2 separate regions of the Homo sapiens genome follow, and region 2 is linked to region 1. The links come from fine-mapping of genetic effects on gene expression. Tissue or cell type: whole blood. Region 1 holds a variant in brackets; the other region holds the start of a gene. All regions are shown on one strand. Distances are between the middles of the regions.

What was found. PIP is the estimated chance that this variant, and not a neighbour inherited with it, causes the effect.
Region 2: TRERF1 starts here. The variant in region 1 is fine-mapped to the expression of TRERF1 in whole blood (TOPMed, PIP above 0.99).

The regions. Positions count from the first base shown.
Region 1 is chr6:42,377,431-42,380,186 of GRCh38, reverse strand. All of the region lies in intron 2 of TRERF1 (transcriptional regulating factor 1), which reads left to right. Among named protein-coding and RNA genes, the nearest start is that of TRERF1, 73 kb to the left of the region's middle. The variant G/A (reference allele first, on the strand shown) is at 1,371.
Region 2 is chr6:42,450,529-42,453,284 of GRCh38, reverse strand. It overlaps TRERF1 (transcriptional regulating factor 1), which reads left to right and starts at 1,359. Exons shown (of 18, transcript NM_001395490.1): 1 at 1,359-1,611; 2 at 2,024-2,108. It overlaps LOC124900214 (arf-GAP with GTPase, ANK repeat and PH domain-containing protein 2-like), which reads right to left and starts at 925. Exons shown (of 4, transcript XM_047419627.1): 1 at 1-925. The coding sequence starts at 464. LOC107986596 (a long non-coding RNA gene) reads right to left here and starts at 925. Exons shown (of 5, transcript NR_171668.1): 1 at 660-925. RefSeq lists silencers at 1-344, 815-894.

The DNA of each region.
Region 1 (2,756 bases):
TTACCACACTGGACTCCTGGTTGTTCCTGAGATTCCCACCTCGGGGCCTTTGCACTTGCTGATCCTTTGCCTGGAATATCTTCCCCCAGGTATCTGCATGGCTGACTCCACTCTTCCCCCAGAGACCTCTGCCCCAACCGTCGTAGATAAAATGCCCTCCTTCCTCACCATTCTCGATCCCTCTCCTCCTGTATTCCTTTTCTCTAGAGCCTTTATCACCGTCTGGCATGGCATATAGATATTTATTTAACTCTTTCTTTGTCTCCTCCCTGTGGAACGTAAACACCAAAACTTGTTCTGTTTTGTTCACTACTCTGTCCCCAGAACCTACAACATGCCTGGCACAGGCTGGGCGTGATGGCTCACACCTGTAATCCCATGTCATCCCAGCACTTTGGGAAGCCAAAGTGGGTGGATCGCTTGGGCTCAGGATTTCAAGACCAGCATGGGCAACATGGCGAAACTCTGTCTCTACCAAAAATACAAAAATTATCCAAGTGTGGTAGCACACGCCTGTGGTCCCAGCTGCTTGGGAGGCTGAGGTGGGAGGATTGTTGATGCCTGGAAAGTCAAGGCTGCAGTGAGCTGTGATTGCGCCACTGCACTCCAGCCTGGGTGACAGAGCGAAACTCTGTCAAGTAAATAAATAAATAATACATGCCTGACATATAGTAAGTGCCCAGTATCTATCTGTTGAAAGAAGGAAGGGAGCAAAGGTGGGAGGGAGGGGAGGAAGGAAAGATAAACACAAATGGAAATGAAAGGCCTCCAGGCCCTTGGTTTTAAGGATGGTTTGATTTGGTTAGTCTCCTCTATAGGAAAAGGACACAGTGGGCTGGGGTGGTGGAGACTCCATTGCTTTCCATTGGCCATGTGGATCCATCTCTTTGGCATGGTAGGCTGGCAACATTTCCTGAGCTCCATTCATCCTGCGTGGCCCTTGTACCTACCATGCCTAGACTCCCTTTTCTGGCAAGGAAAAGACAGGTACTAGAAGATGAGCTGAGGACCCAGGGAAAGACTGTGGGGGGTGGTACACACAAAATATATTAAAAAAATTTTTTTTTGAGACAAGCCCTCACTCTGTCACCCAGGCTGGAGTGCAGTGGTGCCATCACGGCTTACTGCAGACTCTACCTGCTGGGCTCAATTGATCCTCCCACCTCAGCCTCCTGCGTAGCTTGGGACTACAGGTGCATGCCACCATGCCTGCCTATTTTTTTTTAAATTTTTAGTAGAGACAGTGTCTTACTATGTTGTCCAGGCTAGTCTTGAACTCCTGGACTCAAGCAATCTGCCTGCCTTGGCCTCCCAAAGTGCTGGGATTAGAGGTATGAGCCACCGGCCCAGCCTACAATATATAAATTTTG[G/A]TTGTGTTCATAAAATTGGGAGGTTGGGAGGGGAAGCTGAAAGCTCCCAGGTTTAGGTCCTGCCCCTTTTTTGTGGGTAGCCTTGGACAGTTACTTCCCCTCTCTCAGCCTCAGCTTCCTCATGTATAAAATAAGAATTGGACTAGGCATCGACTCTCCTAGGGATCCATGCAGATGGGCTTCGGGGGTCTTTGCCTCTGACAGACAAGGGCCAGTGATCTAGGTTGTTCCCAAGGTCCCTTCTAGTACTGAAATCCATGTAGACCTCTGCATTTGAAATTCTGCCCTCTTTGGATTGAATATCAGCTTTTTGATGAAACCATGACTTTCTTGATATGCTGAAAATAAAGGTGACAGTTTAAAAAAGTAAATATTTAAAAAGTTTTCTCAGTGCCGGTTACTTTAGTAAATGTGGGTTTTTTTTTTTTCTTTTTTCTTCTTGGTCTCAACCTATAAGCAATCACAAGATCAAACAAGTTTCAGTTTGAGTTCCCTCTGCTTGACAGTCTGAGCCTGTATCGCCTCGACTTATCAAGTTTGCTTTCAGCTAGTCTGGCTGTTTTGGGGAGGCCTTATCAGCCAAGTGTTCAGCCCTCAGCGTAGGAAGATATGGTCTTGGGCTTTCTTTGGAAGCTGGTACCCCTCATCCGCTTATCTCCACCTCCCTTCAACCCCTCACCTGCCCCTCAACCTGGCCAATGAGCTGTTATAACACAGCAGTAATAGTCCCACTAGCTTTGGGAAGATCACCAAATTCTTCCCCCTTCCCAATCCCTTGCCTCTTACCCAGAACTAGTTACATAATTTACTGAGCTCAGTGCAAATGAAAATGTGAGGCCTCTTGATTAAAAATCATTAAGACTTTCAAGATGGTGACAAGAGCACCTTCAGCAAGCATGGGGTCCTGTGAGACCGCACGGGCTGCATGTTCCTAAAGCCAGTGCTGCCCTTGCCACTTCCATCTTAGGTTACCAGGACCAACCATGGAGATGTATATAACACAATTTGAGAGGCACTGAACATTCCCTCGGAAGGAATTTGAGTTATTTCTATCATGGCCTGTGAGATTCAGGGCTGCTATCCTGAGCCACTGTGCGTTTGGAAAATCCGTACAACTGGGTAGGGAGGGTTTGGACAGTGCCCATGAGTCCTGGTAGAAGGGGCAGAGAAGGATGATTTATAAATGTTCATACTGCCCAAGCAGCCCCACGGATGCTGACAGCATCATTTGTTCTGTCCTTTACAAAGTATTTTCATGGATAAATGAAATGTGTTATATCCATACAATGGAATGTTATTCATCCATAAAAGCAGTTGGAGTACTGATACATGCTACAACATGGATGAACCTTGAAGACATTATGCTGAGTGAAAGAAGCCAGTCAC
Region 2 (2,756 bases), 73 kb before region 1:
CCCCGCAGAGGAGGAGGAGGAGACAGCGCGAGGGAGCGACTCCGGGCTCGGGTTTCCGCACCAATGCCGAGCAGCCCCGGGCGGCCCCCGGTGGCCGTCCCTCCTCCCCGGCACCACGTTCCACAGTCATGGCGCGCGAGGAGGGGCGAGCGCGCGCGGCGGCTGCACCCGCGCCCCCTCTCCTCCCCTCCCCTCCGCCGCCCGGCCCCTCTCCTAGGCAACCCCCCTCCCCGGCCTGCTGCGCCTGCCGCGGCAAGGGAGACCCCTCCCCAGAGAGCTGCTCTTCCAGCGCGGTCTACTGCACCCCTTCCCCGCCCCCATCGGGGCGGAGGGATGGAGACGCGCGCTTCGCGAACCTCCAGCCCCTTCTCCGGAGCCCCAGCCCTCTCCCAGCCCCACCGAGGCCAGGGTGCGGTGGGGGTAGGCGCGGACCGTCTCCTCGCAGCCCGCCTCGACCTCGGCATCTTTGCAAACACTTAGAAAAATAAACAAACCCCCTCACAAACCCCAGTCGTTAGCTTGCAAAGCGTGTTACAATAACCGGGACGGCTACGCAGGAAGCAATCCTGCACTGGTCCGGGTTTAAGGCGGCAGCTTCCCGGCCACGCTGCCTTCTCCCCGGCCTCGATTTTCCGGCCATGCCGGAGGGTCCGCTGCACCTCAGGGCTGACAGGTCCCGCTCGCGCAGGGCCGCAACTGGGCCCGTGTCCCCCGTCCCATCCTCGTCCAGAGACTCGCCAGCCTACAAAAGGTGCAACCTCACGCACACGCAAAGCGCACAAATAAAGTCAGCAGCGCACCGCCGCGAAGGCTGCGAACAATGCGCCGGGCGGCCCGCGCCCGCCGTAGCGCTGCGCCCCGGGGGAAAGGGGACGCGGGCGGGGGCCGAGGCGGACGACCAGCCGGTCGCGGCGCTGGACACCTTACTTCCTGCTTCCCCGCCCGCGGCCAGACCCAGCTCTGCGGAGGGATATCTCCCCTCCTCGGTCCCTCTCCCTCCCTTCCCCCTCCCTTCCCCCGCCCTCCCCCTCTTTTTGCTCCTGCTCCCCCCCCCCACCCCGCCTTTCTCCTTTTGCAAGAAAATAATTTGACAGTCGATTTGCTGACAAGGGAGGAATTTGCATCCTGGATTTAAAAAAAAAAAAAAGGCCGAGAGGAGCTTGGGAACGGTTGCTAGGGGTGGGTAATGGGTGAAAAAAGGGGGGTACCGGGGAGCGGATAAGGAGGGTTAAGGGAGGGGGCGAGGATGGGGAGCAATGCAAAGGTAAGGCCAGGTTACCGCGGCTCGGCCCCGAGTGGGCTGCGACCGGGGGAGGGGCGAGAGATACATATGTATTTCTGTCTCCCCAGCACACCCCCTTCCCTCTAAGCGATGGCTGAGAGGCGGTGCATGCAGATGGGGAGTAAGTTTCCTGAAGGGGAGGGTGGATGCACGCGCGCAGCCCGGCGCTGCAAATTTCCACTGGGGAGGGAGAACGGCTGGATGCGGAGAGTTTGGAGTTGCTTGCGGCGGAGGGCAGGAAGGGGAGCAGGGCTGGGAAAGGGGGCTGGCGGGCGCTATATCTGGGAGTAAGTTTCCAGCATCAGGAGAGCCTGCACGCTTGCTCACTAGTAAGTTTCTGGCCGGGGAGGGCGCATGGGGAGGAGGAGAGGGAGGGGTGCATGTATATAGAAGGGGGGAGGGGGGAGCAGATTTCCTGCGGGGAGGCTGAATGCATATGGAGAGTAGATTTCCTGAAGGGAGGGTGGAGGCGTAGACGGACCGAGTAAGTTTCTTGCTGGGGTGGTGGAGGAGGTGGTGGGTTGGTGCTTTGGAAACCCAAAGCTTCCTACCCTGGGTGGGGGAGCACACTCTTGTCGGGGGGACGAGGGGCCAGGTTCCCTGCTGGGGAGAGGGGCTTGCATCTGGGGAGTATGTTTCCTGGCGGAGCGATATTTGTTTACAGGCTGAGGGCAGTACAGTAAGTGAGTAGCGCTGAGAGAAGGCGGCTGACATAAATTAATATTGAAATTACTCCATCAGCTCTGCTCGCCCCCCATCTCACCCCCCAAGCGGATACTGGTCTTCTCGTCGGATTGCCCATGCACTTGTTGCAGAAACAGCCAAGGTAGGCAAGAAGCTTATTAAGTTTCATTTTTAAAAAATTAGTTTGGGGATGCTCCTCGAGAAGACGGGGGTGGGGCGAAGTGGGGAGGGAAGAGTGGGGAGACAGAAGGAGAAGTCTCCCCCCCCTTTACTTTCACTATGCAAGCAGGCCTTCTCCCTTCTTCCCTTCTTCCCTCTCCGGGCTGCACAGCATCCCAGCAAAGGGGGAGGGATGAGGTGGGCGCTATAATTGGCAACCCTGGCTTAAAGGTAGTGATGGTGGGCTTGCATTTGAGGTTGTGATGTTATAAAGGCTTCATTCTCCAGCTAAGAAACCGCAGGACTCTGCCTTTTGGGGTTTTTGACATGATACATATGTGTATGTATACGCGCCTGCGGGCTCTGTGGGGGCTGGGTACTCCCCAGAAGTTAGTGTGGCCACCCAGATGGGAGAAATGTGTAAGGGGGTAAACCTGTTCCTTCACTCCCCAACTTCAGTTTGGGAGACTGGGAAGTTACTGCCGGTGGTCTTAAGAAACAGATATTAAAAACCAACCAAACCACTCCTTCACCAGCGGAGGCCGAGAGCACCTGGCAGGCAGCCTCTGGCCAGCACTGGACTGGAGCATGTGCGCCTGCCATCCTTAGGTTACAAGAAAACGCTTTCTGG